Regions from separate parts of the Homo sapiens genome. Here region 2 is linked to region 1. The links come from fine-mapping of genetic effects on gene expression. A gene starts in region 1. The other region holds a variant in brackets. All regions are shown on one strand. Distances are between the middles of the regions. Region 1 holds the start of SERPING1 (serpin family G member 1). Region 2 overlaps ZDHHC5 (zDHHC palmitoyltransferase 5).

Region 1 (5,377 bases):
TTTTTTTTTTTTGAGACAGAGTCTCGCTCTGTCACCCAGACTGTAGTGCAATGGTGCGGTCTCGGCTCACTGCAACCTCCACCTCCTGGGTTCAAGCGATTCTCCTGCCTCAGCTGCCCAAGTAGCTGGGATTACAGGCATGCACCACCACTCCCTGATAATTTTTGTATTTTTAGTAGAGACAGGGTTTCACCATGTTGGCCAGGCTGGTCTTGAACTCCTGACCTCAGGTGATCCACCCGCCTTGGCCTCCCAAAGTGCTGGGATTACAGGCGTGAGCCACTGCGCCTAATTTCATCTTTCTTATCACCTCTCCTTGCCATGAAACATGGTTAGTGGCTGCGACCTTATTTTATATGTTCTTGTATAGTCACAGAGTTTTACAAGCAATCGTGCCTATTACATCACTGTGAAATGATGGAATGTTCAAGAATGAAAAGATACATCCCTCTACCCCACCCCCAATATATAATAGCCCATTTTTACAGCTTCTTCCCAGAGGCATGGCTTTGTAAGTGTCTGGATTGGTGACTCTTATGGGAGTGTCCAACAAATGACCTGGAGAGAATTCAAGCAGGGTCTTACCGAGCAGGACCTGGGTAAGGAGGCTGGCGATGCTGAATGGGGAAAAGGCCATGTTGGTCTCCACCTTCTTCATTGCTGAGAAGGCGTGGTAGAGCTTCAGGGAGAAATCTACCAAAGCATCCCCCAACACGGCCTCTGTTGAATGACTCTCCAAGTCAGAGCAGAGAGTAACAGGTCCTGGGCAGAAGGACCCAGTAGTGGGCTGGGTAGGAGAATCTGTTGGGAGCTGGGTAGTTGGTTGGGTGGGTTGGATGGTGGGTTGGGTGGTGGGCTCTGTGGTGGGTTGTGTGGTGGGTTCATCAGTGGTATTAGCTGTTATTTTGGTGGCTGAATTGGTTGTTGAGTTGGTTGTCGGCAAGCTGGAAACCTCCAGGATGGGTTCAACGAATAGCATCTTGGAGATAACTGTTGTTGCGACCTTCCCTTCGCCTCTGTCTTGCAAACTCTCTGGATCCTGGGAGCTGGAGCTGGTAGCATTTGGATTTGAGGAGGCTCTATCCTGTGGTTCAAGAAACTGAGTTTCATTTTTTTCTTACTACGAGGCACAGTCCTCTAAAATACTCAAAGCAGGAAGAGAAGGTGTGGATGTGGAAAATGTCCTGTACAAGAGAGTAATTTCTGACAGTGCGGCAGATGAGCAATCTGTCTTAGAACCACCACCACTAATTCCTCAGAGAAGGGGCAATACAGGGTGAGGGTGGGGGTGCACAGGAATGTGCTCTGCAGAAGATGAGGGATAGTCAGGGACTCTGTAATCTCTGACCAATTACTGCCCTGTAGGAAGTTGTTTTCCAAACAGTGAAGCTGAGTGTTGTCATTTATCTATGTTCTTGCAATTTCCTGTAAATATCTACCTGTTTGACTCACTTGCTTGGCTAGTACAGACATTTGAACTTGTGCTCCTTGATTTAGAACAGTAAATTTTTAAACTGTGGGTTGCAACCCATTAGTGGGTGTGGAAAAACAGTACACATTAGGAAGGGAACGAAGAAAGGGAAGGAGGAAAGAAGGGAGGCAGGAAGGGAGGGAGAGAGAAGTAGTATAGGCCAGCGGCTCTGAAACAATTTTGACTCCCAGGGGATATTTGGCAATGTCCAGAGACATTTTTGGTTGTCACAGGGAGACAGCAGGGAAGATGCTACCGGAATCTAGTGCGTAGAGGCTAGAGATATACTGCAAAACATCCTAAAATGCGCAGGGTAGCCCCTCAGCAATGAATTATCCAGCCCCAATGTCAACAGATCCTCCACTGAGAAACCACGCATTAGCTCCATTTCACAGGTAGAGAAACTCATACCGACACATATTAACTAGTCCAGGGTCTCACAGAAATGGGAGAAACAGCTAGGGGTCAAAACAAGGTCTCTGATTCCAAACTCCCTGCTCATAACTACATCATCTGCTGAGTATGTGATACCAACTTGCGCGTGCACACACACACACACGCACATACACACACCCCTACCTACCTTTCTCCTGGGATCCTGCACTTCTTAGCCTTATTTCTAGTCCATGACCTCCCAGACCACTGGGACCTCTCACTGCTATTGACCCCCACCCAGACCCACGTATGTTTGCTACCATTCTTCCCTGTCTTCACAGGCCCTAGCCTGGGACCACCGTCTGTGTCACAGCAGCCAAACCTCTCCTCCCCACAGCTCTTTTCTACAACAAACTCTTGCTTTGATATCACAAAATGCTTCCCATCTCCTTGCCCTATGTGATCCTCCTGCCAAGCCTGCTTGGTGGACAGGGTGGGATCTGTTTATTCAACATTTTATAAATCAGGAGGAGTAGGCTGAGAAAAGTGACGTCCTCAGGACCACGCTGCGCAGCTCCTACATGGCCCGCCAAGATTAGAACTTGCATCTGTCTGAGTCCTGAGCTCTTTCCACCATCTACGAGTGCGTGTGCAAGGATCACACTCAATGATCCCAAGAGGAGCTCTCCTCATTCCCCGGAGCCTGAAGGGTTAATCCTCAGCCACCGCCCGCACCCCGCACCATCCCGCCTCCCGTCTCCACCCCCGTCCCCCATCCCACAAGGGACCACATACCCCAGCCAGCAGCAGCAGCAGGAGGGTCAGCAGGGTCAGCCTGGAGGCCATCTGGGCGGCGACGTCAGCGGACCTGCGGAGCCAGCCAGCCTCGGAGCCAGCTCCCACCCTGGGAGCCCAGGGGCCCCCACCCCGCCCGGGGCCCGCCCCCATTCCGTCTCAGGCCCCAGTCCCTCTTAGCGAATTCCCTCCTCCTCCCTCCTGGGGCCACCTTCTCCCTGGCTCCTCCCTCTGTTTTGTTTTCCCCAAACCGCTTCCCTTTCCCGGCACCGGCTGGCCCTTCCTCTCCCCGTGGGCCCGGGTCTCTGTCCATCTGTTCAGTCGGAGGGGAGGTGGTGGGAGGGGGAGGGGGTCCTGCTTTAACCAAACAATGAGGCCAGAGGCGTGGGGGAGGGGAGGTCCTGGGGGGCTGAGCACAACAGGCCTGAGGCGGGAGGGGCTGGGGTAGGAGGAGGCAGAAGTCCCAGGTGGAAGCAAGCCTATAGAGACCCCCGAGATCAAGGCGGGCAGGAAGGCGGGGGTGAGGAGACCCCCTCCCTAGACCTCTTCACTCCATGCTTTCCACCCTACTCCCCACCCCTGCCCAGCACCAAACCTACTCCAAACTTCTGGTCACCAGGCAGCTCCAGTGCAGACTGAGTAGAGAGTCCCCCAGGGTCAGGGAGGGTGGGGTGCGGGGGGGGCAGTCTTAGCTATTGGCTGGCCCGGGACACTGCCCAGTTACAAATTAAGGAAGATTGATCGCTGGTGTGAGTTCCTGTAAATCAGGATGGGACGGAATGGGACTGACCGCTTGGTCTTCTTTGTGGGCCAGGCCAGGAATTTAGCCCAAATCCCCTGGTAGGTGGGGTGAACGGGGAAGCTTGGGTGCAGTTCTCAGCTTTACACAACCAAAGCTTCCCCCGCGTCTTCATGAGTAACAATAAAAACAGCATGTACACAAAATGTGCTCCGCAGTTTTTAAAGGAATGAACTTTTTGGAAATTGCTCACCTCCGTTATTCCTCAAAGTAACCCTTTGTGCCCCATTGTACCCATTTGATAGTTAAGATACTGAGCCTTAGAGCAGTGAAATGTCGGGCCCTGATCACCCTCATTTGGAGAAGTATTCTGAAGCCTAATCCCTGCTCCCATCTCCCCTGTGCCCTGTAGGTGTTCTGCCATTTTTGCTCGTAGAGACCCATAATCAGTAGTTCTTTGTATAACAGACAACGGATGTGAGGCACCCAGCTCAACAAGCATTCAACCTAATTAAAAAAAAAAAAAAAAAAAAAGCTAGCCGGGCACGGTGGCTCACGCCTGTAATCCCAGCACTTTGGGAGGCCGAGGTGGGTGGATCACTTGAGGTCAGGAGTTTGAGACCACTCTGGCCAATATGGGGAAACCCCGTTTCCGCTAAAAGTACAAAAATTAGCTGGGCAGTGCAGGCGCGCACATGTAGTCCCAGCTACTAGGGAGGCTGAGGCACAATCACTTGAATCTGGGAGGCAGAGGTTGCAGTGAGCTGAAATTGCACCACTGCACTCCAGCCTGGGTGACAGAGCAAGACTGTCTCAAAAAACAAATAACTAACTAAATAAATATTTAAAAACTTGAAAGCTGGGGTGTATGTGTTTGCGACTAGGGCTCCACAATAGACCTGGCTGGCTGTGTGAGCCAGCAAGTTGCTTTCCCCCTTGACGTCTGGCTGTCCTCGAAATCTGGCTGTCCTCGACATCTAGCTGTCCTCTCAGCATTGCCAGATAAAACACACGAAGTAGGCAGGCCTGGGGGTTCATACCTGTAATCCCAGCCTTTTAGGAGACTGAGGCAGGAGGATCCCTTGAGCCCAGGAGTTCAAGGCTGCAGTTAGCATTGATCATGCCACTGCACTCCAGCCTGGGCAACAGAGTAAGACACTTGCTGTCTCTAAAAAAAAAAAAAAAAACTTACATTGGGATATACTTATGGTAAAAATGCTTACATTGGAATATACTTATGGTAAAATAAATTTTGTTGTCATTGTTGTGTATCTGAAATTCAAATATAATTGGCATTTTGTATTTTTGCTAAATCTGATAACTCTGCCTCATCTGCAAAACAAACAGGTTGTCTCTGATGACCTAATATAGCTATCATGTTCTATCGTCATCTCACTGCAGGCCTATCCTCTGGCTGTGTTTGGAGCATTCAGGAAAGTTTGCTGCTAGCACCAGAACTGCTACTCTAAGGGACTGACCAAGGACAGAAACAGGAGAATATTTGTGTGTCTCCTCGGGGGTCCTTGGACAAGACCCAGAAAGAGTCTTCCCCAGCTTTGTGCTTTATTCTCTGAAGCCACTTGGGAACCTCCTAAACCATGGGAAAGTTATATAACATCAGAGCCATCGTTTGAACAGCTGCACACAAAACAACGTTTCTCCATCCCCAGTGCTCAAGCTGGTGGGCTCAAAGGGACTATGAGCTTGTGGATTCTGGGAAATGGGTCAGCCAAAGGAAAAGAAGGTGGTGGAAAGCAACCTAATTCACTGAGTGCTCACCATGCATTTACATTCATCCTCTCACTAATTCTCATCACCTATGAAGTAGGTGCTATATTAATCCCATCTTAAACAAGTTAAAATGAGGCTCAGAGAAATTAATTGATCTACCTAATATCACAAAGCCAGTAAGTGACAGAGCCAGGATGTGGACCAGGTCTGTTTGACCCAACAGTTCTTTATTAACCCTTACAAATTATTGACACACACCAGGGGCT
Region 2 (5,377 bases), 93 kb before region 1:
ACTAAAGCAAGCTTCCGTCTCTTTGCCTTGGGTGAGACTTCCATGTTATCTAGCTTGACTTCTCTAAATTCCTCACCTTTGTTCTCCTCAGCTCTCCCTGGATGCCATTATCCATGATCTTCACAGTTATCTGCCCATCTGAAACTTCTGGTCGAAGGAAGGGAGGTCTGATTACAATTGTCTTCTCTTTCTTTGGTCTCCCCAAATACCTAAGTGTCGAGAGAGAGAGAGAGAGAGACACAGCGAGAGAGCTTTCATTCATTTATATTTTAAAGTATCTACTGTTTCTGTAAACCATTTTTATTAGGTTGGTAAAAAAGTAATTGCAGTTTTGGCCATCACTTACTTAGCAATAAACAGAATTGATTCTGTGAAGGACTGCAGCAGGACTAGGCCTTTGTGAGCAGATACCTAGCTCAAGGAAAGCACTTTAGAGTGTATCTTATTCACCCTCAATTCTCAAAGATTTACCTTAATACCTGAAGAATATCAATGGAATTCACAGTGTCCACTAAAGCAGGGGTCCCCAACCCCTGGGCCGCAGACCAGTACCGGTTCATGGCCTGTTAGGAACTGGGCCACATAGCAGGAGGTAAGCAGTGGGCCAGTGAGCATTATCACCTGAGCTCCATCTCCTGTCAGATCAGCGGAGGCATTAGATTCTCTTAGGAGCGCAAACCCTAGAACCCTGTTGTAAACTACACATGCAAGCAATCTAGGTTGTATGTGTGCTCTGAGCTCACTGCAACCTCTGCCTCCTGGGTTCAGGCAATTATCCTGCCTCAGCCTCCCAAGTAGCTGGGATTACAGGTGCCTGCCACCTTGCCCAGCTAATTTTTGTATTTTGAGTAGAGAAGGGGTTTCACCATATTGGCCAGGCTGGACTTGAACTTCTGACCTCAAGTGATTCGCCCACCTCGGCCTCCCAAAGTGCTGGGTGTGAGCCGCCACACCCAGCCATGAGAATCTAATGCCTCATGATCTGAGGTGGAACAGTTTCATCCTGAAACCACCCCACCCCAGCCCCCATCTGTGGAAAAAGTGTCTCCCATGAAACCGGTCCCTGCTGCCAAAAAGGTTAGGGACCACTGCACTAAAGGATGGGCATGTAGGTACTTACCATTCTAAGATAGACTACTTACCATTCTAAGATAGAGTGGGTACTTAACATTCTAAGATAGAGAACCCTTCCTAAAGGCTCTCACCAGACCCCTCCTTTACCAGAACAAGCCCAAAGAAGATAAAAGTTCTGACCAATGGTAAACACTAGACCAGAGGGATAGGTGTACCTGGGTGCTGGAGAACTGCAGAGAACACGGCTGACATTGTTACAGCAGCCATTGGTGAAGGGGTTCACACCTCCCCGGAATTTACCCGTAACCTAGAGGGAGAAAAAAAATACCAGGTTAGAAGATGAGACCTTGACTTCCAAAGGCCAAAATACAAATCTATTACAAGTTATTGTGCACTCACTATCTGAGGGCTATGCAAATGAGTAAAACACAAGAAATTTATATATGTTATGGTTAAGAGCAGGGAATCTACAGTCAGGGTCCTTAGTTCAAATCCTAGGTCTACCTCATGGTTGCTGACCCAAAACCTCAGTTTCCTCATGTAAAATGGGATAGCTTTCTAAATATTGAAAACTAAGATAAAGAATAAGCAATTAAGGGCTGGGCATGGCAGCTCACACCTGTAATCCCAGCACTTTGGGAGGCTGAGGCAGGTGGATCACCTGAGGTCCGGAATTTGAGACCAAACTGGCCAACATGGCAAAACCCCATCTCTACTATAAAAATATATAAAAACTAGCCGGGCATGGTGTCAGGCACCTGCAATCCCAGCTACTTGGGTAGCTGAGGCAGGAGAATTGCTTGAAGCCAGGAGGCAAAGGTTGCAGTGAGCCGAGATCGTGCCACTGCGCCCCAGCCAGTGGGCTCCAGCCAGTGGGCTCCAGCCTGGGTGACAAAGCGATACTCTGTCTCAAAAAAGAAAAAAAAAAAGCAATTAAGGTTAGCTACTATTATATGCACAAAAATCATTGCTTTCCTGTAAGCAGCACTATAAGCTTCTTGAGGGCTAGCCTAAGTCTTTCATTGTTTCTATAAACTCAGAGCCTAAATTCTCCAGTATCCAGTGGGCATATAGTAAATGTCTGTTAACTAAGAAGTGGCCTCTATTCTTTTTTTTTTTTAGGAAGATCTTAAATATTTATATGTATATGAACATATATGTACATATACATATGTCTTGCTACACTTTAAATTTAAAAATCTATTAATATGATTTTTGACAAACTAAAGAAAGAATAC[T/C]ATTATTTGGATACCAAGTTCTATGGTGAGTATTGTTTAAAAAACTATCATCTTATTCTTTATGCTATATTGTCTAGTTTCAGTTTGGTTTGGGTCTCTCAATTGATATTTCAGGTGATGATGCCAAACCATCCAAGACTTTCTTTGGAGATAGATATTATTTTGTTATAAAATATATTTTTAGGCTGGGCGCAGTGGCTCATGCCTGTAATCCCTGCACTTTGGGAGGCCGAGGTGGGCGGATCACGAGGTCAAGAGATCGAGACCATCCTGGCTAACATGGTGAAACCCCGTGTCTACTAAAATTACAATAAATAAATAAATAAATAAAAGATATTTTAGCACTTTGGGAGGCTGAGGTGGGTGGATCACCTGAGGTCGGGAGTTCGAGACCAGCCTGGCCAACATGGTGAAACCCTGTCTCTACTAAAAATACAAAAATTAGTTGGGCGTGGTGATGCACATCTGTAATCTCAGCTACTTGGGAGCCTGAGGCAGGAGAATCGCTTGAACCCAGGAGGCAGAGGTTGCAGTGAGCCAAGATCACGCCACTGGATGCCAGCCTGGGCGACAGATCAAGACTCTGTCTCAAAAAAATAAAAAATAAAAAAAGATATTTTAGGGCAAAATTCAGCCTTTATCTCTATTGTCTTAGTATCTCTTTGAGAGTATCTTTATTATTATTATACTTACAGCTCTAGGGTACATATGCACAACATGCAGGTTTGTTACATATGTATACATGTGCCATGTTGGTGTGCTGCACCCATTAACTCGTCACTTACATTAGGTATATCTCCTAATGCTATCCCTCCCCGCTCCCCCTGCCCCACAACAGGCCCCAGGGTGTTATGTTCCCCACCCCGTGACCAAGTGTTCTCATTGTTCAGTTCCCACCTATGAGTGAGAACATGCGGTGTTTGGTTTTCTGTCCTTGCGACAGTTTGCGCAGAATGATGGTTTCCAGATTCATCCATGTCCCTACAAAGGACAAGAACTCATCCTTTTTTATGGCTGCATAGTATTCCATGGTGTATATGTGAGAAATGGCCTCTATTCTTACATGGCCTCTACACTTACATGAGGAACTAGGACTACCTCACTCCCTACCATTAATCTCTACATAATCATGAAAAGTATTCATTAAGCATCTCTTTGTGGAAGCACTACACTGCACACTAATCAGAAGGCTAAAGAGACATGACCTGCTCTTCAGGGGTCTCTCGTCACTTTTCTCCATACCTGTTCATTGGTTGTGCGTCCCCTGGCCACCAGAACCACGTGAAATCCCGTGAGGCCAGCTACAGGGATGAAGAATAAGCCAGCCACACACATTACTGCCATTCTGATGCCAAACAATCAAGGAGAACAGAGCAACATGACCTCACTTTCCCCGGCCCCTACTGCAGCCATTTTCCCTTTAGCCCTCATTCCTCCCCCTTCCAATCCCACAATCTAAAAGGCCTTGAAGGATACGTGACAGCCGTGCGGACCCCTGAGAGTTCCTCTATGTGGTAGAGGACATAAAGGAGGCCAAAGCCAAACACACCCATAATGTGGGCTGTCAGGGAAAGGAGGAAAAGGAAAAAATAACGGTAGTTCCGGCGACCAATACAGTTATTCACCCAGGGGCAGTGATGATCAAATTCCTAGGGACAAAGAGAGACAGATGAGAGGCATCCCTGGACCATAGCATTAAATTACTTCTGTCAAGAAGAGAAACAAATGGCAGCTAAGTTTTGATCATGGTCACCAATTAGTTCAAAATTAAATCCAGTTTATTTTGCTCTATAAATCTGCAAGGGAGACCTTCCAGAGGTTGGTCAAAGGCCAAGGCCAACCAGGCGTAGTGGTGCACACTTGTAGTCCCAGCTACTTGGGGGGCTGGGGCTTGAGCCCAGGAGTTCAAGGCTGTAGTGAACTATGATGACTGCCTGTGAATAGCCACTGTACTGGGCAACATAGCAAGACCCCATCTCTTAAAAAAAAAAAAAAAAAAAAATTGGCCGGGCGCGGTGGCTCACGCCTGTAATCCCAGCACTTTGAGAGGCCGAGGCGGGTAGATCACGAGGTCAGGAGTTCAAGACCAGCCTGACCAACATGGTGAAACCCCATCTCTACTAAAAATACAAAAATTAGCCGGGCGTGGTAGCGCGTGCCTGTAATCCCAGCTACTCAGGAGGCTGAGGCAGGAGAATCGGTTGAACCCGGGAGGCGGAGGATGCAGTGAGCCGAGATTGCGCCATTGCACTCCAGCCTGGGCAACAGAGCGAGACTCCGTCTCGATAAATAAATAAATATATATATATATAAAAAAGACCAAGGCCGGCTCTCAATGTTTATCCTATGTGACCAAGGAACTCTAAAAGTGACGAATGTCAGAGGTTTTGCAGAAACATCAAGATTCATAAGAAAAGAGGATTAGAAGGAAGATTTGGCAGGTAACTGCTTATAGCTAAGTGAAAATGGAATGGAAAAAGGACAAGGGATGCAGAAGGACAGGCAGGAAAACAACTACAACAAATTGAAACACAACAGCATGATTTTCTGGAAGAGAAAATGCAAAGCCAGGATAAATAACCAAAACTGAGCCAATAGATAGAAGGCTAGAACTATAAATCTTGGTGTCAAGAAAGCCTACACCCTGCTAGTGCAATGGCTCATGCCTGTAATCCCAGCACTCAGCACTCTGGGAGGCCAGGGCATGAGGATCACTTGAAGCCAGGAATTTGAGATAGTCCAAGCAACACAGTGAGACCTCATCACTACAAAAAGTAAAAATAAATAAAAAAGAAAGCCTATGCCCATATTGAGTTAAAGCTTCCCTCCTGCAATAATATTTATGCTCTGCCTCTCATGCCATGTCATTATTAACACCATTTGACAGAGCTGGACCATGTGGCCAACGTAGTTAGACAGGACTATACCACATCCAAAGCTAAGAATCTATTATATGGTTAGGATGAAGACAATGAAGGTTAAGCATGAAGTCTTACCCCACCCAGGGTGCTTACCTCCACACAGTTGTCACAGACACTGCAGTGGGAACATCGAGGGGGACGGTA

The links. PIP is the estimated chance that this variant, and not a neighbour inherited with it, causes the effect.
Region 2: its variant is the best candidate, but not a certain one, in a credible set for the expression of SERPING1 in whole blood (TOPMed, PIP 0.50).

What each region holds. Positions count from the first base shown.
Region 1 is chr11:57,595,586-57,600,962 of GRCh38, reverse strand. It overlaps SERPING1 (serpin family G member 1), which reads right to left and starts at 3,278. Exons shown (of 8, transcript NM_000062.3): 1 at 3,241-3,278; 2 at 2,642-2,714; 3 at 586-1,084. The coding sequence starts at 2,692.
Region 2 is chr11:57,688,615-57,693,991 of GRCh38, reverse strand. It overlaps ZDHHC5 (zDHHC palmitoyltransferase 5), which reads right to left. Exons shown (of 12, transcript NM_015457.3): 4 at 5,327-5,377; 5 at 3,789-3,961; 6 at 3,555-3,657; 7 at 1,290-1,381; 8 at 77-209. Among named protein-coding and RNA genes, the nearest start is that of MED19, 21 kb to the left of the region's middle. The variant T/C (reference allele first, on the strand shown) is at 2,313.